Linked DNA regions of Homo sapiens: region 2 is linked to region 1. Evidence: fine-mapped expression QTL. Tissue or cell type: tibial artery. Region 1 holds a variant in brackets; the other region holds the start of a gene. All regions are shown on one strand. Distances are from middle to middle.

What was found. PIP is the estimated chance that this variant, and not a neighbour inherited with it, causes the effect.
Region 2: AHCYL1 starts here. The variant in region 1 is fine-mapped to the expression of AHCYL1 in tibial artery (GTEx, PIP 0.98).

The regions. Positions count from the first base shown.
Region 1 is chr1:109,923,515-109,934,389 of GRCh38, forward strand. It overlaps CSF1 (colony stimulating factor 1), which reads left to right. Exons shown (of 9, transcript NM_000757.6): 6 at 1-676; 7 at 1,262-1,314; 8 at 1,633-1,688; 9 at 5,338-7,478. The coding sequence ends at 1,675. Among named protein-coding and RNA genes, the nearest start is that of CSF1, 18 kb to the left of the region's middle. RefSeq lists an enhancer at 7,562-8,510 and a silencer at 7,634-7,848. The variant G/A (reference allele first, on the strand shown) is at 4,628.
Region 2 is chr1:109,979,568-109,990,442 of GRCh38, forward strand. It overlaps AHCYL1 (adenosylhomocysteinase like 1), which reads left to right and starts at 5,198. Exons shown (of 17, transcript NM_006621.7): 1 at 5,198-5,605. The coding sequence starts at 5,486. RefSeq lists silencers at 5,424-5,493, 5,674-5,743.

The sequences.
Region 1 (10,875 bases):
AATGGGCACTAATTGGGTCCCAGAAGAAGCCTCTGGAGAGGCCAGTGAGATTCCCGTACCCCAAGGGACAGAGCTTTCCCCCTCCAGGCCAGGAGGGGGCAGCATGCAGACAGAGCCCGCCAGACCCAGCAACTTCCTCTCAGCATCTTCTCCACTCCCTGCATCAGCAAAGGGCCAACAGCCGGCAGATGTAACTGGTACCGCCTTGCCCAGGGTGGGCCCCGTGAGGCCCACTGGCCAGGACTGGAATCACACCCCCCAGAAGACAGACCATCCATCTGCCCTGCTCAGAGACCCCCCGGAGCCAGGCTCTCCCAGGATCTCATCACTGCGCCCCCAGGGCCTCAGCAACCCCTCCACCCTCTCTGCTCAGCCACAGCTTTCCAGAAGCCACTCCTCGGGCAGCGTGCTGCCCCTTGGGGAGCTGGAGGGCAGGAGGAGCACCAGGGATCGGAGGAGCCCCGCAGAGCCAGAAGGAGGACCAGCAAGTGAAGGGGCAGCCAGGCCCCTGCCCCGTTTTAACTCCGTTCCTTTGACTGACACAGGCCATGAGAGGCAGTCCGAGGGATCCTTCAGCCCGCAGCTCCAGGAGTCTGTCTTCCACCTGCTGGTGCCCAGTGTCATCCTGGTCTTGCTGGCCGTCGGAGGCCTCTTGTTCTACAGGTGGAGGCGGCGGGTGAGTAGATCCCCATGAGGAAGAAGAGCACGTCCCTTAGGGCAGGGGCAGAGCCTGGCGGGGGTGCAGGTGGGGGGACAGCTTGGGTGCGGCCTGAGTTCTTCAGACACAGAGAGATAGGGGCTGGCTCAGCACAGAGGATGAGAGGTGGAAATGGAGGATTACTTCGAGAATTGGGAAGGTTCAAGCTATAAGGTCAATGGGAAGGGACTGGAGCAGAAGGGAGCGGGAGAGAATATTCATGGGCTGACAGCAGGATGATATCCAGACGGGCAGGGAGCTGGAGGAGGAGAGCAATGCTGTGTGAGCGTGTCAGGGCAGGCGTACACTGGAAGCTCTGCAGAGCCTGGGGCAGGAGGACCCATAGGGAACAGCCTGCAAGGGTGTGGGGAGAGGAGAGGGGACACCATCAGCAGAGAGACCTCACAAATCTCCCTTGGGCCTCTGGCTGATCCCCACTTTTGGGAAGTTGGGAGGACTCTTGCAACTCTCTCATAAATACCTGGGGCAGCCCTTACTGGGGATGGGCCACCGCCCCCCCACACTCCCCCAGCTCCTCAGTGAGATGCTCTTTCCTGTCCTCAGAGCCATCAAGAGCCTCAGAGAGCGGATTCTCCCTTGGAGCAACCAGAGGGCAGGTGAGAGCTTGAGGTGGGGCTCTGGGAGGCACTGGGGGCCTGGCTTGGGATCTGTTTCCCCTCTTCGTGGTGGTGGGGCTCTCCTGCTTGCTCTGAGGAAATGGAGCTGCAGAACAGGATGGGGGAGAGAAGAAGGGCCTCTGTCCTTTCCCAGATATCTGGGCTTTTTCCTGATTTCTCCGTAGAGTTAGACAGTTCTGGGTCTTTTCAATCTGAGAGGGCCTAGAGCATGTCTGGGGCTTAGGGGTAAACTTACGGAGTCCCCTTATTCCCCTGCTCCTGCTGATGTCTAATACCAGCCCTGTGCTCTGCCTGCAGCCCCCTGACTCAGGATGACAGACAGGTGGAACTGCCAGTGTAGAGGGAATTCTAAGGTAAGATTCTGACTTTGATCTCCACTCCTAAAACTTACCTATACCCTTTTCCAGTCACGTTCACCTGTTGGTGACACCAATTCCCCTGAGGCCCCCACACTGACTCCCATGCCTCTCTCCAGTTCCCTTTCCATACATCGCCAGCCAGGTCCAGCCACCCTCTCCTTTCCAGGTCCTCAGCTATCCCCCTGCCCCTCCATTCCATCCACCCCCGCTGAGGCCAGGGACTATTACCTCTGCATTGGGCTTCTAGTGTTGCTGCCACCTGTGACCTCAGAGCAACTAAACCCCCCTTTTTCAAATGTGGCCTTTATAAGGTCTTTACCCTCCTGGAGAATCTTCAGTAGCTCTGTGTGGCAGCCACTGCAAGCCCTATATTCTTGGCTTGGCTGCCAAGCCCCTTCGACAGCAGCTGCTTGCCAGATCGCCACCCCCGCACCAGTTAACCCTCCTCCCCAGCTGAGGTCAGTTCTGCTTCCTTGCTTTTAGGATCATGTTGACATAGAACCTGAGTCTTGGAAGGGCTCTCAGGGGTCATTTGGCCCTGGTTCCCACCCCAAAGGGACTGCCCCTCTCCATGTCCCCAACAGGGAGCCAGCCAGCTGGCTGTCACACACTCCCAGATCCAGCCCAGCTCCCTGCCTAGCCACAGCCCATGCCATCTTCCAGTCAGACTGGGAGAAACGTCTTCCTCATGCGAGGCAAAACTGGCTTCCCTGCCCCCTCCATACTGCTCCTCCCTCCTGTTCTCATGAAAACCCTCAGATATTTCAAGTCAGGTATCCATGTCCCCTTTGAGAATTCTCTAAGCTAAGTATGGCCAAGTCCCTCAAACGTTCCTTATATGATATGGTTTTCAGACCCCTCACCATCCTGGACACACTCGTTTGTCAATGTCCCTCTGAAAATGTGACGCCCAGCCCCGGACACAGTACTCCAGATGTTGTCTGACCAGCTCAGAGAGAGTACAGTGGGACTGTTACCTTCCTTGATATGGACAGTATTCTTCTATTTGTGCAGATTAAGATTGCATTAGTTTTTTTCTTAACAACTGCATCATACTGTTGTCATATGTTGAGCCTGTGGTCTATTAAAACCCCTAGTTCCATTTCCCATAAACTTCTGTCAAGCCAGACCATCTCTACCCTGTACTTGGACAACTTAACTTTTTTAACCAAAGTGCAGTTTATGTTCACCTTTGTTAAAGCCACCTTGTTGGTTTCTGCCCATCACCTGAACCTACTGAAGTTGTGTGAAATCCTAATTCTGTCATCTCCGTAGCCCTCCCAGTTGTGCCTCCTGCACATTGATGAGTGCCTGCTGTTGTCTTTGCCCATGTTGTTGATGTAGCTGTGACCCTATTGTTCCTCACCCCTGCCCCCCGCCAACCCCAGCTGGCCCACCTCTTCCCCCTCCCACCCAAGCCCACAGCCAGCCCATCAGGAAGCCTTCCTGGCTTCTCCACAACCTTCTGACTGCTCTTTTCAGTCATGCTCCTCCTGCTCTTTTGTATTTGGCTAATAGTATATCAATTTGCACTTATTTGGATGTTGTTTTCATATTTTTTAAAATCTTATTTTATATGTATTGTACATTCCACATCCCTAAGATTGTAAGCCCCTTGAGGGCAGGGACTGTCTTCCACTTTTTTTTGTGTTTCTTTTTCCATCCTGGGTTCTACTAAGAGAGGGCCTCTCCACATTTGCCAAACATGCAATAAATGTTGACTGACTGGCTTCAGGGCTGACTCACGGACTGACCCTGGCCAGCTGTCTCTAACTGACCAGCCTCTAGCTGACCAGTTAACCAGCTAACTGACTGACTCTGACTGACTGGCTGACCAGCTGGCTGGGTGAATGACTAACCAACCAACTATCTTGGTAACTGCCTAACTGACCAGCTGTTGCTTGGGGAGCCCATTGAGCAACTGACTAGCTGATTGCCTGACTAATTGGCTGGTTGGCTGACTAGCTGGGGTGACCCAGTCAAGTTTCCAGTCACATCCTTTACCAAGTGCAAGCCAGTGCCGCAGGGCTCTCCCATGTGTGGAGTGACAGGTCTGGGCCCCTTCTAGAGAGATAGGGAATTTGGCAAATGCTCAAAACCAGGGGAACCTATTTAGACAAGAACCAGCAGTAACAACATATCTGGAATCCTGGGGTCTACCTTGTCAGTGGGGTGGGCTAAGATGGGTGAGTGGGTCAGCTGGGGCACTGGCAAGACTGTGAAATGACCCAGGCCTCCTCAGAACTGGTTGCTGGTGGCTCAGTGCCACAACACCCTTCCCACGGGTCGTCTGTCCCCAAACCCCTCGCCGTGGTCTTGGCCCTCTGTCCCACCCCTCTACACGCCCACCCTCCTTTCCCCACTTGCTTATTCTCAGGCCCGTCCCAAGCTTTCCTCTTCCCCCTCAAGATTTCACTTGGAGAGGGAATCCAGGGCAGGGGCTACATCCAGATCCCACTTGGCCCGGCAGGTCCAGCCCTAAGGTGGTCTCCAGGCCAGGCACCAGTGGCCTTGGAGAGATTGAGTGCCAGCCCCTAGAGTGACTGCTGCTGTGATTTGAGAAGTGAGAGAGAGAAACATAGAGGCAGAGACTGAGATAGGGACTCAGAGCCACAGAAAATGCAGACACCAGCACCTCAGCCCTAAGCAGCTAGAAGATGGGGCAGCAGGCTGGAACTCGCTCACTGGGTCCTTCTCCCCTCCTGGGCCCTAGCTGGGCCTGTGGCCTGGCTGTACCCAGCATGGCTCATGTCCAGTTTATGGTTCCCCTTCTTTCCCTCTAGAGCATGGGAATGGGCAGGGAGCCAGAGGCTGTGGTTCCATCTTCCCTCCTTACCCAGTAGGGCCTATGGATGTTAGGGAGGGAGGCTCCACACAAGGTCCAAAGTCAAACTGTTGGATGGGGTCCAGGGGATTTCTGCTCTGGGAACAAA[G/A]CGTCCTGAGGATGCTGGGCAAGAGGACAAGGATGGGGGTGGAAGGCGAGAGGACAAGGCCCTGACTCCCATGGATGATGCGGGAGGCAAGGCCCTCGGCCCATCCAGGAGGGGCTGGGTTGCTTAGGGGTCGCGTGCCAAATGACAGTGTGGGAATTTCCTTGTCCTGGCACTGCCTCTAGACTTTTCCTCTCTGGCCCAAGTTGTTCCTCTTCAGCTAGCTCTGCCCTACTGTCTTGAACATCATATGTGATGCCCCTCTGATGAAATGAAAGATTCTTCTTTGCTAGTGTTAGCAGGAATCACCCTTTGTTCACTGGACCAAGGCCAATGAGATGACCTCGCCTGAGGAGGGGTCCAAAGACATTCAAGTGCCCGCTTCGCTCCTTGTCAGAGCCCTCTGCTTGAGCAGTAACCCCTCTTCCCAGCCCTGCCCAGACCTCTCCCGGGCCCCGTTATCTTCCACTGAGGCCCTGATTCCCCAGGAGGAGGTAGGAGGTGAGGCCAGTTGGGCCAGAGGCCTGGGCTGGTGCCAGAGAAAGCTGCCTGGTCTCTCTGTGGTGTCTGGAAAGGCCAGGGAAGGGAGGAAAGGAAGTCCTGCCTGCAGCACCGCCAGCAGCCCACAGGAATGCCACACCTCCCAATCCATGTCCTCAACGACCCTCCCCGCATTCCCACTCTGCTGACTAGCCTTTCCTTCTCTCCCACAGCTGGACGCACAGAACAGTCTCTCCGTGGGAGGAGACATTATGGGGCGTCCACCACCACCCCTCCCTGGCCATCCTCCTGGAATGTGGTCTGCCCTCCACCAGAGCTCCTGCCTGCCAGGACTGGACCAGAGCAGCCAGGCTGGGGCCCCTCTGTCTCAACCCGCAGACCCTTGACTGAATGAGAGAGGCCAGAGGATGCTCCCCATGCTGCCACTATTTATTGTGAGCCCTGGAGGCTCCCATGTGCTTGAGGAAGGCTGGTGAGCCCGGCTCAGGACCCTCTTCCCTCAGGGGCTGCACCCTCCTCTCACTCCCTTCCATGCCGGAACCCAGGCCAGGGACCCACCGGCCTGTGGTTTGTGGGAAAGCAGGGTGGACGCTGAGGAGTGAAAGAACCCTGCACCCAGAGGGCCTGCCTGGTGCCAAGGTATCCCAGCCTGGACAGGCATGGACCTGTCTCCAGAGAGAGGAGCCTGAAGTTCGTGGGGCGGGACAGCGTCGGCCTGATTTCCCGTAAAGGTGTGCAGCCTGAGAGACGGGAAGAGGAGGCCTCTGGACCTGCTGGTCTGCACTGACAGCCTGAAGGGTCTACACCCTCGGCTCACCTAAGTGCCCTGTGCTGGTTGCCAGGCGCAGAGGGGAGGCCAGCCCTGCCCTCAGGACCTGCCTGACCTGCCAGTGATGCCAAGAGGGGGATCAAGCACTGGCCTCTGCCCCTCCTCCTTCCAGCACCTGCCAGAGCTTCTCCAGGAGGCCAAGCAGAGGCTCCCCTCATGAAGGAAGCCATTGCACTGTGAACACTGTACCTGCCTGCTGAACAGCCTGCCCCCGTCCATCCATGAGCCAGCATCCGTCCGTCCTCCACTCTCCAGCCTCTCCCCAGCCTCCTGCACTGAGCTGGCCTCACCAGTCGACTGAGGGAGCCCCTCAGCCCTGACCTTCTCCTGACCTGGCCTTTGACTCCCCGGAGTGGAGTGGGGTGGGAGAACCTCCTGGGCCGCCAGCCAGAGCCGGTCTTTAGGCTGTGTTGTTCGCCCAGGTTTCTGCATCTTGCACTTTGACATTCCCAAGAGGGAAGGGACTAGTGGGAGAGAGCAAGGGAGGGGAGGGCACAGACAGAGAGGCTACAGGGCGAGCTCTGACTGAAGATGGGCCTTTGAAATATAGGTATGCACCTGAGGTTGGGGGAGGGTCTGCACTCCCAAACCCCAGCGCAGTGTCCTTTCCCTGCTGCCGACAGGAACCTGGGGCTGAACAGGTTATCCCTGTCAGGAGCCCTGGACTGGGCTGCATCTCAGCCCCACCTGCATGGTATCCAGCTCCCATCCACTTCTCACCCTTCTTTCCTCCTGACCTTGGTCAGCAGTGATGACCTCCAACTCTCACCCACCCCCTCTACCATCACCTCTAACCAGGCAAGCCAGGGTGGGAGAGCAATCAGGAGAGCCAGGCCTCAGCTTCCAATGCCTGGAGGGCCTCCACTTTGTGGCCAGCCTGTGGTGGTGGCTCTGAGGCCTAGGCAACGAGCGACAGGGCTGCCAGTTGCCCCTGGGTTCCTTTGTGCTGCTGTGTGCCTCCTCTCCTGCCGCCCTTTGTCCTCCGCTAAGAGACCCTGCCCTACCTGGCCGCTGGGCCCCGTGACTTTCCCTTCCTGCCCAGGAAAGTGAGGGTCGGCTGGCCCCACCTTCCCTGTCCTGATGCCGACAGCTTAGGGAAGGGCAGTGAACTTGCATATGGGGCTTAGCCTTCTAGTCACAGCCTCTATATTTGATGCTAGAAAACACATATTTTTAAATGGAAGAAAAATAAAAAGGCATTCCCCCTTCATCCCCCTACCTTAAACATATAATATTTTAAAGGTCAAAAAAGCAATCCAACCCACTGCAGAAGCTCTTTTTGAGCACTTGGTGGCATCAGAGCAGGAGGAGCCCCAGAGCCACCTCTGGTGTCCCCCCAGGCTACCTGCTCAGGAACCCCTTCTGTTCTCTGAGAAGTCAAGAGAGGACATTGGCTCACGCACTGTGAGATTTTGTTTTTATACTTGGAAGTGGTGAATTATTTTATATAAAGTCATTTAAATATCTATTTAAAAGATAGGAAGCTGCTTATATATTTAATAATAAAAGAAGTGCACAAGCTGCCATGTGAGTCGTGGGAAAGTTGCTTTTGGGGTGTGGGTGGCAAACATCAGGGTGGGTGGGCAGCAGTTGCCGGATGAACCCCAGCTCAGAGAACCTTTTTCCACAAAACACAGGGGAGGAAGGTTCTCTCCAAGTTTCAGTCTTGGTACCAAAACCTCCTGTATTATTGCTGTCCCAAACACATTCATCTGCATATCTGCTCGTATTGGGCAGAAAGTGGCCAAACATCAGGCCTGGTCACTGGCCCCTGCTCCTGCCCAGCCTAGCCCAGCCTGGGAAAATGGCTGGTTGGGCTCTGTCCAAGGGCCCCGGCGGCCTGCAAGGATAAGGCTCCTTGACTGCTGAGCCCTGCTGACCAGGGCAGAGGTTGCTGGCTAGGTCCTTGCAGACTCTGAGGTGAATGAATTCTGTTTCCAGGCTGGGAAGTGAGTGTGGTTAGCAGGGGAGAGCCAGGAGTCCGTGTAAGGGCCCTCGTTCGGGCTCGACCTTCCTACTGGAGCTGGAGAGGAGACTGAGGGTGTGGCTTTCCATGGGGAGAGGGGTGTTAGGCAGGGCCAGAGGAGTTGAAGGCCCAAACATACACCCTGGGCAAAGCTATGACAAGAGGGGCCTCCCCATCCCTGAGGGAGTGGTAGACAGCTTTGGATTAGTGGTTCCCAACACTGGCTTCCGGGAGAATCACCTGGATTGTTTAAAAAAAATACTGATCCCCGAGCCCCACCCTAGATCAACAAAATCGAATCTTAGGGGTGAGGCTCAGGCACCAGATGTCAGAACTTTTAAAAGACATCTCAGGTGATTCCAATGTGATCCAGGATAAGAAGTATCTAGAGCTGCACTGTCAGGTAGGGTGGCTATTTAAGTTTAAATTAATTAGAATGAAATAAAAGTAAACATTCAGTTCCTTACCTGTACTATCCACATGTCAAGGGCTCAGTAACTACATGTGGCTACCATGTTGGACAGCACAGAAATACAACATTTGCATCATTCCAGAAATTCTACTGGACAGTGCTACCCCAAAGATTAGGTCCTTGGACTTAGGGACCAAGGATACAGGGCCAAGATTGGCATCAAGCACATTTGACCAGGGGCTAGGTGTTCAGGTGTCTCAGTCACCCCTTTCTGTGCCCTCACCCCTGCCACCCTGTCCCTTGTCATTTCCCTTAAGATGGCTCTTCCCTTTCTATCAAAAGAGCTACAGAAAAGATTTTTGAAGAAACTTACATTTTATCCTTCAAGGCCCCTCTGAGAAGCCTTCCCAGCCTGACTCAAGCTCCTGAGGCCCACCCAGGTTCAATTCCTTCCTCCCCTGTGCTTCTACAGATTTGGAATTTGGAATCTGTTTGTCTGTCTGTCCCACCAGGCCATGGTCAGTGGCAGACACTGCTACATCCCTCCTTTTATTAAAGGGGGACATGCGCCTAGTGCCTTAGCGCCTAAGAGTATCTGGCACACAGTAGGTGCTCAGTAACTGTGTGCCAAAGGTTAATACTTAAAGCATGAACAGAGGCATCATAATGCAAATTCTGACCAGACGTAAGGGGTGGCCTTTTCTAGAGGCCTTATTGGTATTAGCAAATGAGATTAGTATCTAATAACTACTGTTCAATGGCCAAGCAGAAGGATTTTCAGCAGAGGAGTCTTCCTGGCTTCTGACAGAAATGGGGCTAGTTAGAGCCCTTCCTGATCACTGGGCTGTGGTGGATGGAATGTACACTTCAAAGCCTCTAAGCAAGGATTGGTGATGAGGACAGCAAAGACCCCTTCCCCTTAGCTGCCTCTCTGGAACCCCCAGAAAGACCTGAGAATCTCGGCAGGCCTTTCCTGGGCTTCATGTGCTGCAGGGGCTGCTTGGGAAGCATCATACCTATAGAGCAATATTCGCTTTGAATTGAGAACCAGAGAACTGGCTGAGCGTGGTGGCTTATACCTGTAACCCCAGCGCTTTAGGGAGGCTGAGGTGAGAGGATCACTTGAGCCCAGGAGTTTGAGATCAGCCTGGGCAACATAATGAGACTCCATTTCTACAAACAAAAACTAGCCAGATGCGGTGGCACACACCAGTAGTCCCAGCTACATGGGAGACTGAGATGGGAGGATAGCTTGAGCCAGAAGGTTGAGGCTGCAGTCAACCCAGATCATACCACTGTACCTCAGCCTGGGAAATGAAGCAAGACCCTGTCTCAAAAACACCAAAACCCAAAAAACAACAGAAATTGGGTTCTTGGCTTGAATCTCTCACTGGCTCTTACTGTTTGACCTTGAGTAAGTATTTAACCTCTCTGAGCCTCAGGTTTCTCCTCATCTGTAGAACTAGTTTAAGAGTACAAACCAGGTGGCTGGGTGCAGTGGCTCACACCTGTAATCCCAGCACTTTGGGAGGCCAAGGCGGGCTGATTACTTGAGGTCAGGAGTTCAAGACCAGCCTGACCAACATGGTGGAACCCCATCTCTACTAAAAATACAAAAATTAGCCGGGCATAGTGGTGCACGCCTGTAACCTCAGCTGCTTGGGAGGCTGAGGCAGGAGAATCACTTGAACCCGGGAGGCAGAAGTTGCAGTGAGCCGAGATCGTGCCACTGCACTCCAGCCTGGGCAACAGAGCAAGACTCCGTCTCAAAAAAAAAAAGGAAGAGTGCAAACCAGGTATACCTGGACTGCAGTTCAAATAAAATGACAAACCCAAAAGCACTTTGTGGGCTCCAAAGGGCTGCCCCTGAATCAAGTGTGTATTGATACTGTGCCTGCCAGCTGGTCCAACAGTGCCCAAGCCAAACAGAGAGCTCCCCTCTGGGCAAGCCCTGGGCACCAGCATGCTACCAGGGCCTGGCTGTTCTCAGAGGAAGGTGGCAGAGCTGGGTGCTTCCCACAGGGATGAGTAGTTAGAGATCTTGTTGCTCAGGTATTTCTGGCTGACAAGAAGAGCCAGGTAGGAGACTGGAGTGGAAAGTGGCCTTGGGTTGCTACGGGTGCCGGTGAGCAGGCAGGGTCAGGAACTCTGGCTTGGACTATATAAGCAGAGGCCACGGCCAAACCCCAAACCACTATCCGGCCAGAGGCAGGAAAGTGAATCAGAGGAGACGAGGAAGAAGCCTGAGGTTAACCTCGTGCAGACTGTGGGCCGTGGCAAGAAAGGAGTTGGTGACAGGACTAGATGCAGGGCCTGGGTGGGTGTCCAAAGACCCCTTGAATAAGGCACTAAAGTCATTTGGTGAAGGCAGTGGCCAGGGAGCCCTGAAGAAAAAAAGCCACATTTCCCAGTGAGCACATGTCCCCTGCCCCAGTGAAAGCCTCCTCTGCCAGAGCAGCACTTTTGTTTGCTGGTTTCCCTCTTCAGGCTCTAGGATTAGGGGAGTGACCAGGCTCTGCTCCTGAATGCTGGGACTGCTGAGG
Region 2 (10,875 bases), 56 kb after region 1:
ATATTTGCAACTTGTTCAAAGCTTTTGCATATTTATGATCTTACTGGATTAGGTCATTACAAGCCCCAGATGGAGAGCTATCAACCTGTCTTGCATGAGGAAGAGGAGGTCAAAAAAGGTCCAGGATGCCAGTGGCCAAGTTAGTAGCAGAGTGAAGATTTGAGCCCACATCTCTGCCCAGTTTTCCTGCTTCCTCACACCATGCAGCCTCGCCATGAGTCAGCTATCACGAGTTCCAGACACAGGACCTCAGATCCTCTAGGGCCAAAAGGTGCCTCCTTATCCTGGTCCTTGTTTACAGTCATTATAACTGCCCCCACTACTTACATTTTTGCTCCCTTTCTCTGGCAGGAGCTGGTGCTGTGACCCATCTTCGCCTGTTTTGCTTGAAAGCCATCCCCACACCCACTCCGAAACCACCTCCCTCCATTCCATTATATTGCACTAGTTGGAAACAATTCAAATACCGAACAATAGGAAAACAGTTAAGCAAACTCATAAAGCAATATGACAGAAAGCTTGGAAAACATGGACAATAATAACAAGTATGTCAATGCTCTCCGTTCGGGTCATGTGTTTTTGAAATATTGTAATTTGATCAAAGCAGAATACAAAAGGACATGAACCTACCAATCACAGGTATGTAAAAATGAGTTTCTGCAAATTGCTAAGAACTAGGAGTGAACTTAACAAGATGAAAAGAAATTTTTAAAAAATCTTCATGGATTTTTCTTTCCTATAATGTTCAAAATGATAATAAAGAGTAAGTGATCCTAATAAATATGACAATAATAAGCAGAGGGGGAGACAGAGAAGGAGGAATGTTTTCCCACTGGAACTGGAGAAGGGGAAGGAGAAAAGGCTGAGGGTAGGGAGGGAGGGAGCTCGGTGGGAAGTAGGAGCCAGGAAGCCTGAGGACCAGCACCCACAGCCACAGAGGTGCAACCGGGAGCCCACCCTCTGGGGGTCCCTAAGGGCCAGCGAGGTAGGTGACCAATCTGAAGTGGTGCTCCAGGGCACCTTTCACAATAATTACAATGTCAGTGGTGCCTCCTAGAGCTGTGCAAGGTAGCAGTTCTGGGACAGAAAGAAGCCTGGAGCTGGAGGGTTTGCCCATGCTGGAGAGCTAGAGACAGAGCCACTGCCCTCTTCACCTTCTTCCGAACTTCCATTGTCACCCAAGATCTCTGCAGTTTTTCTGCACTTTCATTCCAGAGGGCTAACATAACACCTGGCCGACAGGAGGTGAAAGGCCTTCAGGAGGAGCACAGCCTCCCCCTGGTGGGGAGCCTGACTGGCAGGGAGCGGGCAGTTCCAAAAGGTGCCAACCTGGGCTCCCCTGAGACTCAGGGACAGTGCCCTCCACAGACATATCAAACTCAACATGTCCCAAGCTGACTCCTCTCAGCAGCCCCCCTCCACCCCTCTAGCCACACTTGCTTCTCCTCCTGTGCTCCCCAGCATGGCAGACATCACCACCACCCACCCAGGGCTTAACACGCCCTGCAGGATCTGGCCCTGGCTTCAGCGCTCACTTCACCCTGCTTTGCACCCTGTGCCCCACCCACATGGGGATATTTACAGTTCCCGTAATATGCCAAGCTGTTTCCATCACCATGCCTATTCTCAGGCTGTTTCTTCAGCCTGGAGAATCTTCCCTCCCTTGCCCAGCTGCTTATCTGTCAAGACTCAGCTCTGGCAGCATCTCCCTCTGTGTCATCCCTTTGCCCTCCACTGCACCCCACCCCCATCACCTGTCCCCACGTAGAGATCAGCACCTCAGCTTATTTATCTCTGTAGTCCCGACTGACATCTAGCCCTGCTGCTGGCACTTCTTCGGCACTCAATATATATTTTATAAATAAAAGAACAAATGACTGAATGTAGAACATCAATTTGGGGGTGGACAAACAGTGAATCTGATTAACAAGACCAAGCCCACGTGTGGTAGCCCAATGCCACTACATTTCTGGTGACAGCATCTCCCAATTCACCACTGCCCTTAGGCCACTCCTTTCTAGCAAGGGTCTTCGCTCCAGGCCCTTGGAGACTTCCCACCACCACACACAGCAGGTGCATCTGTCTTTGGGTCCCTGTTCTTCTCCAATTGCCCCGTGGGGGGTCTCTCACCTGTGTGTGGATGCGCTGTTCAGGGCAGTGAGCTTGCCAGTAGAGGTGCTGAGTCAGGTGGGTGGGTAGGCTGAAGACAAGTCATCTCTTGGCATTCATGAGAAGCAATCGCCTTAGCTGTGCCATGTGAGGCTATCTTAGGATGGGTTTTGGGGGTGGGAGACAGGATGCAATGATTCTCACGGATGTTATGTTGTCACACTCCCTGGCTGGGTGAGCTCTTTGCTCTCCAGCACACACGTGATGGAAGGGATGGCAGCCACCCATGCCCCCTGCAGTGGCTGGTTTCCAAGAATGTCCCGGGCCCCTGGCCTCACTTGAACCACATAGGCCTAATGCTTTCCACCAGGGTAGGGGGTGCTGCCCTTCCCCTTTCCAGTCTGAGTCCCCGAACTCTCCTACATCAGCTCATCAACCTCCCCTCAGGCCAGCCACTCAGGTGAGTGGAGTCTGACCTGCTGATCTCCTTCTTAGCCCAGACTGCTAAGGTACTGCATGCTCTAGGCCTGGCCCTGTCTGTCATCCTCTGTAGCAGCAGCAATAGCAGACAACACTGTGAGCCTGGTGCTAGGGCAGACCTGGTCCAGGAGGAGTAAAGACTGAACTTCAATCTCCAGGAAGCTCACAGTCTGGATGCTTAAATGCACAGCAGAACTGGGGGACTGAGAGACAACATGTTTAGACAAAGTGAGTTCTAAAAATCAAATCCAAAAGACAGATACACTGATGCTTCTCTTTAAAAAAAAAAAAAAAAAAAAAAAAAAGATCTTCTTAAGTCACACATTTTTCTACTATAGGGACTTGAGATTTCATCCCTGGTTCCAATGGGTTCTGCCTCGAGTCTTTGGGCAGGCATCTCTGATCCCTGGGCTCTGCCAACAGTTTGGGCAAACCCACAAGGATGAAAGCCACTGTGAGCCTTATGTTCAGAGAGTCCTTAGTGCACCAGGTGTGGTTCCTGACCCCTAGCTGAAAGATGTCAGTCTGGCACCCTCATGGATGAACCTGGTATTCTGGTCTCCATCTCTGTTCCCGTTCTGCTACAGTGATGCCCCTGACAGGGAAGTGTGAGTGCTCAAAAAAGTGAGCAGATGAAAGAATACAAACAGTTCAAGACCAAGGTCTGCAGATGTGCAAAGGGTGCATTCTTCCAGGCACTTCTACAGCCCTTTTCAAACAGACAGTCTCATGAGGCTAGGTGGCTGGAACACAGGATTCCCTGACTAAGACTTTTAGGGCCCTAGAGGTGAATATTTCACACTCTCCCCAGCCCTGAACACAAATCAGTGGGGAAAATGCCATTTCAAACCAAAACTTCCTTCTTGAAAGGGTATGCCCTGTTAAAAACCTGGGAGGTTTCTGGATGTTAAAAGGTGGTCCTGGCCAGGCGCGGTGGCTCACGCCTGTAATCCCAGCACTTTGGGAGGCCGAGGCAGGTGGATCACGAGGTCAGGATCCGAGACCAGCCTGGCCAAGATGGTGAAACCCCGTCTCTACTAAAAATACAAAAATTAGCCGGGCACGGTGGCGCACGCCTATAGTCCCAGCTACTCACTCAGGAGGCTGAGGCAGGAGAATCACTTGAACCCGGCAGGCGGAGGTTGCAGTGAGCTGAGAGCACTCCAGCTTGGGCAACAGAGCGAGACGTCATCTCAAAAAAAAAAAAAAGGTGGTCCTGGGGAGGAATTTAGGGAAAGGGCACTGGGAAGACTGGAATTGCTCAGCACAGCAGAGGAGAATCTGGCTTCCCAGAGTCTATCAAGGAAGGAAGGATGAGGTGCAGAGATGGGAAGGGAGGAACAGGAGGAAGCTAGATTAGATGGCAATGGGCTAGGGAGCGTGGTGGGATCTTGTGGCCATTGAGAAATCCCCGGGTGGTAAGACAGCCAAAATAACTTTTCAGAACATTTCAGAAATGTGTTCTTAAATTGTTTGCTGTGTGATGTAATCTCTCCCCTGTGACCCACAAACCTTTATTAAAAGTTTTACTACATGTTACAGCCTTATTTTGTAGTTGTTTAGCATGGGGTGGGGGTTGAAAGGAGAAGCGGCTGAATTGACCCCAGGAGCTACAGAAACAGTCACAAGACCAGAATAGTGAATAAAATGCCAGACAAGGCAAAAAAACTAGAGCCAGAGGTGACCATGAAAATCCAAGTCCTCCCAGTAATGGACTTTCCACAGGACATGGTAATTGGAGCCAATGTCATTTGAATCTCAAAGGACAAGCTACCTCAGCTGACATTAGGATACAAGCAGGTTTTGCCTCTCCAGCTGAACTAAGCCTTGCAAAACATAAAATGCGTCACATGTCCTTTTGCCAGCAGGGCCTCAGCACAGGCACTGCACATAGTAGGCCCAGTAAAAGGGTGTGAGCAGTCCATGAATGTCCTGGATGCCCACTGAGAGCTGGAAGGGTCTAATGCTTTGGTGGAGCAAGGACCGGAAGGCCATTCTGGCTGGGGACTTCTCCATCAGCTCTCCTGGTCTCCACCCTCATACCCATCAGCCCTATCCCAATGAGGGTTTTGTAAACAGGCAAGGCCCAGTCGGAGATGGTGGTGGAGGAAGTCACAAAGCGTTGTGCAGAAACCAGACTACTCTGAGTCAGTTCTGCCCCCTATGAAGTCAAAAAGACAGGCACGGCCCCTTGGGAAGGAGCTTTAATCCAAAGGGCCTGGGGCTGGGCCAGTGAGTGAGTGGGCTGTCTCGAGCCCCGGACATTTCCTAGGAATCGCTGTAGGATGTGTCGTGTGGGGCTCTGGTCTTTGCTCCCAAACACCCCTTTCATGCGCCTCTGAGGCCTTGCCAGGAACCCCGCAGCCCAAAGACCCTCCGTTCCGCAGCATCGTTGCATGAACCTCGCGCTGCTCCCAGGGCTGATGGTGCCACCTGGTGGCACAAAGGGTCCTGCTCACCCTGGGAACTTCGCTCTCGAGCGGGAGAGGAACGGCTTCTGTGGCCCAGCCCAGCGTGGTGACGTCACGACAGAGTGCCCTTTCTCCCCGCCTCTTCCCCCTCCCGGGAGCTGCCAGTACTTGACGTGGCGTCACCGCCCTCTACCCTCGCTTTGCGTGCGTGTTTGCGTACAGCGGAGGTGGCGGCGCGGGCAGGTCGGAGCTCGGAGCTGCTGTTCTGGTTCTCTTGTGGCCGCCGTCGCTGTCCGGCTGCCTTGGGCTGCCGAACAGACAAGGCGTGGGCCACAGCACCTCAGAAGCCGACGCAGCTCGACGCAGGGGCCGGCAGGAGGGTGGGCGATCGCGTGTCGGAGGGCGCCGCGCGGGCAGGCGGGCGGGCGCCAGAGGGGGAAAGAGGCGGGGGCGGCGGGTCAGCCGCTGGCCGGGCCGGCCGGGGAATGTCGATGCCTGACGCGATGCCGCTGCCCGGGGTCGGGGAGGAGCTGAAGCAGGCCAAGGAGATCGAGGACGCCGAGAAGTACTCCTTCATGGCCACCGTCACCAAGGCGCCCAAGAAGGTGCGGGGGCTCTGGGTGGCGGCGGGGGCTCGGGCTCCGGCCTCGCGGAAGGGACGCGAGCAAGCCCGGGCTCTGGCTAGTTTGGGACTTCTGGGGGTGACTGGGGACGGCGGAGGTGATGTAGGGGGTGGCGGCTGTGCGGCCCCAGGCCTCTCCCGGGCTGAAAGGCCGCCTCTGACCTCGCTTTCCTTTGTCCCTCGGCCCAAGTCCTCCGGGATCGTTTTGAAACCCGACAGGGCCAGGCCTTAAATTTGCGACTGACTTTTCCTGGATGAAGGGCCTCGAAGACGAGAGTGGGAGGGGGTGAACCAACTCAGCTGACCCTTGTGACCAGTCCGGGGGCATGGGGTGTACAGAAAATCTCCCTTCAGGTGAGTGGGTAAATCTGGCAGAACTTCCATCAAATCTTTGGGAGCAGTGGCCGCTTTATCCAACAACTGCGTGATAGCTGGGAGGCAAGAGAAAAGAATGCGTGAAGCTAGCTCTGATATACAGGTGAAAGCGATGAGGGTAACATGAAACTGAAAATCTATGATTTTCACTTTCTACAGCATTCCAATTACTTCGAAATATGTAAGAAATTGACATTTGGAGGTTGGTGACAGCAGACACTGTCATGGATACAGGTGGATCCTAGAGTCATGTGAATAGATCACTTAGGCATCCCTGGAGAAAGGAGCTTGGGTGGGTTGGAGTAGTGGGTGGTAAGGGAAGATTGCTCACTCTTGACTGTACTTTTGAGGCAGAACAAGTTTGATCTATTGTGCTGTAGGTTGACTCAAAGGACACCCTTCGAATTCTCTCATAAATGGCAACCTTTGGAGATTTTAGTCTGACTAGCTCTCCGAGTGGTGGAATTGGGATCCTTATTGCTTTCTCATCATTTACTGCCAACCACATCTTGATTTTCCATACACCTGGCACCCAGTTAGCAGTAGACCAGAGAACCTTTACAAAGAGGTGACCTTCCTGAAGCCAGTGAGAACCCAGATAAATGTCTCCCTTCTTTATAAAGACAGAGTCTTACAAAGCTGTCTCTGCCTGCATCCAGTGTTTAATGGGATGCAGGGCTGAACAAAGCAAGGGCTGCAGGAATAGTTAAGTCCTTGAGGCTTCAACTAGTTAAGCTGTCTTAAGTGGGAGAGATGGCTCTTTTTTTTTTTTTTAAGTGAATTAACCTGCCACTCCAGAAATCAAATGCAAGATCAAAAAAGACGAGTCGCCATTGTGTGCTTTCGCTGTTTTCTCACAAAATTAAGAATTTAATTCCTTTAAAAGATTGTGGAAGATTCCTTGACTCTGAGGCATCTGATTAACTTTAGTGCTGAGAGTTCAGTTGACTGCTTTGTTGGGACAATGACCCTTTGCAATCTGCACTATTCTTTGGAGAAACAGTCACAGTCCTTATAAGCAGAATGATTGAGGGTGGGACCTTAGATGAGTTAGAGGAAAGAATGGGAAAGCCCTAATACCTGAATTTCCCAGACTCTGTCTTCTTTGCTGTTACTTGCCTTTATGTTAGTAAATCTGTATTCTTGAAAGTACCACTGTTGATAAGACAAAGTCTATATCGTAGATTGTAAAAACTCATTAAGGCAGGGATTCTTGTTCACCTTTGTATCCAGTGTGCCTAGCTTTGTACCCAGCATACAGTAGGTACTCAAATATTAATTGCTCACCTGGCTAACTAGTAACTGAGATGTCCATGTGGCCACCTACCATGAATAACTATCCCTTTTCCTCTCTTCTTCCCAGGAGGAATATTACTAATGTGTATTATTGTCAGGCCAAGTGCTGATGATTTTAGACTTATATTGCATTAGCTAAAAGAAGCAGGCTCTGCCAGGAATGTGGGAAGACCCTGTTTTAAGTTTCCATTTACCAGTAAATGTGCCCCACCGTGTTTCTTATTAATCTTTCTCTTCTAAGTTTTATTCTTTAGCATTTACGTAGTACTTTGTAATAAAGTGTTTCATGATGACTAATTACCCTTTCCCTAGTGATGATAAAAGACATTTATTAAGTTAATGGATCAGTTGAGGACTAGTCAAGGTCACATAGCAAGTCCTAGGCAATCTGTTTTTCAGAACTGCTGAATTGAACATTAAGACTTAAGTCACTTTTGTACCTCTGCCATGTGTTGATAACGTGAAAGCATGGGAAAAGTAAGAGGGAAAAAAGTAACTTGGCATGGTACTTAATGGTGTGAGAAAAAGACCTCTTCAAATGGTGCAGTCCTTCACCTATGAGAATTCTACCCTGGCTCTAGACCAGTAATCCTTGGATTATTCTGAAGCCCTGAGGCCCCTCAGGAATTGAGGATGTTCTTGATGCCAGAGGATATAGGTTACTTCAGGGTGACCTTGATGGTCCTCAGTTAGATCAGATCCCAGTGTCACTTTCTGGTCAGCTTTTATTCATTTTGTTTGCTTTGTTTGAGACAGAGTCAGCTTTTATTCATTTTGTTTGCTTTGTTTGAGATAGAGTGGATGTCCATCAATTAAAAGCATAAATATCTAGATTCTTCAGCTATAATCATGACTTACTCAGTTTTGTATGCCAAGGTCTATCACACTGCTATGAACAAAATAGGACTTGTTGGTTTGATTGAAGATTTGAGATGTCTGGGTGTCGAGAAGTCAACTAAAGGGATATGACCTTGAGCAAATTAATTAGCTTTTGTACCTGCATCTCCTCATCTGCCAAATAAGTGCCTATTTTTTTTGGAACAGGTGGAGATAGGGGCATGTTGGGGAGTTAAGATAGCAGTGTAATTTTTTAAAAGTCTATTCGTATATTTATATTCTTTCTTCAATGGGCATTTGAAGTGGCTTATAACACAGAACATATATGTGATATAAAAGGAAGTAAAAACTATAGAAAGAATGAAAAAAATATTGTTAACCTCGAGGGCTAAGATAGTTGATGAGGTTGATCACATGCAACTTGAAACTTTTAGCAGCCAGAGGATGAAAAGAATCATAGTTACAGTCTCCTTAGCAGGCATGGGAAATAATACATGTCAATTCCTCAAGGGGACGACTTTTCCTGACACAGAGTTCTAAAATAATTTTTCACGGGAATGTCTTAATAGCTGTAGTGTAATTCACATTGTAAGGCTTGTTCACGACTGTCACTGGTGATTTCAGATGGTATGGCTAGGAAAATTTGAGGTAAGAAAAGGAATCCTTGAGTTTTAAGAGTTAAGTGTACCACAACTGAAGAAGATCCTTGTTTAATGTTGGCAGTTATCGGTCAAACCAAGTAAGTAATCTAGTTCCCCATAACCACTGGTTATTTATCCCTCTTTTGCTGCTACTTTGTGTAACAGGAGTGGTAACTGTCCTTGGACCTTTGGAAATTGACACTGTGTCAAGTTGATTCTTTTTTCATAGTGTAAACCCAAATCTCCAACTTGTTGGAGAGCTCTTACAATAAGCATGTTTCTCCGGAAGGCCTTTCAGAACATTTGCTGTTCTCTGAACTTCTGAACATTAAAGGCACTCTCCAGAGTGATCCATTAAACATTTTGACCTAGGATCTGTGGAGTCAGACCCATCAGCAAAATGTGGGGAAGGAGAAGAGCACAGAAGAAACTACTTTTGTTTATAGGATATTCTTTATTTGAATGAAGCTATGTGCCACTAATTCATCAAAAGGGTCAGCTGAGACTTAGGAAGCACACCAAGTAGAGCCCCAATGGGTACAGCTTGGGTGTTAACCCGATAGGTAAAATCCAGGTTTCTCCTTTTGTCATCAGAGTTATCTTACGGTTAATTTTTGGTGCAGTTGTATAGAATTTACGCCAGGACTTGTCAGAATCACTGAAAGGAGATTTCATAGGTTGGCATTTCCTATCTTCACATCATTAGTATCTCTTGATTCTCCTTAGAGTGGCTGCTGTTGTAGTAGCAGTCTTTAAAACAGGAGTTGGGGTGTAAGAAGATCCTCTTTTTAAGATTTCTCCGCAGGTATTGATTACATCTCTTTTTCTTGTTTGGTTTAGTTAGTTACACTCTAGTTTCCAAATTACTTTGTTCCAAGTTTCTTTAGACATTTAGCTTGTAACAGAAATCTGTTAGAAGATTTCTAGATCAGTAGTTGTCTAGATCTTTTGCTGCCAAGGTTACAAATGTATACCTTTTCTTTTATCAGGAGTGTGTCATTTGGATCCAGAGTGTTTTACCCAATATAATATTCTTTTTTAAAATTTATTTTTATTTTTTATAGAGATGGGGAAATCCCTGTGTTGCCCAGGCTTGTCTTGAACTCCTGGGCTCAAGCGATCTTCCCACCTCAGCCTCCCGAAGTGCTGGGATTACAGGCAAGAGCCACCACGCCCACCCCAATATAGTATTCTTGGAAAGTTGTCTATAAAGGATATTTTGATACATGGAATCATGCAGGTCTTTAGTTGCCTGTGACTCCTAGCAAGTGTACTCTGCCACTCCGAGTAGTTAATGATCTGTAAATAAGCACTTTAATGCCCTCTTGGGGTTGTTTTAAAGGAACTGGCGAATAAAGGAGAATCATTTATACGTACCTGTTTCTCAAGTTTGGGAATGTGAGTATTGCATTTTTATAAAGAATGTCAACCCTGATTATACTGGATACATTTTATTATAATTTAGAACTGAATAGTAATTCAGAACACATGCTAATGAGGTGCGTCAGAAGCATTCCTGTCATGTGAAGGGCAACCTACGTGCATAGACCAGAATTTTTTCTAGCCTGAAATCTGAGAATCCCCAGTTGAAGACAAATTCTTACCACAAATTTTCCTTTTGATTATTGTCAATACTATCAGTGCCTATTGTGTAGTAAGCAGTTAATAAAAATTCACACAGAATTGCAGTTGCCTTTCCTTTTCTGATTCCATATTTTCCTTTGACTCACTCAAGTAGTTCTTTTGTCCCACTGTTGCTTGGCTGTTACATAAGACGCCTTTAACTTCCCGTTTCTGTTCCTAAAACTGTGAGTAGTAGTACAACATAAGGTAAGCACTGATTTTTGGAGTCAGTTTTACCTTTAGTCTCTACCATCTAATAGTTGTGGGACATTCAACAAGTGACGTCCTTTTCTCATCTGTAAAATGGGGAACAATGATAGTGCTATCTATATACATGGTTGAGAGGGTTAGCATTTAGTAAATAGTAATTAGTGGGGTTTTTTTGTACCTAGAGTGACCATATATCCTGGTTTGCCTGGCGCAATTCTGGTTTATACCTGTTATCCTAGCATGCAGTCCAAGGAGTGCCTCCGTAGCTCTG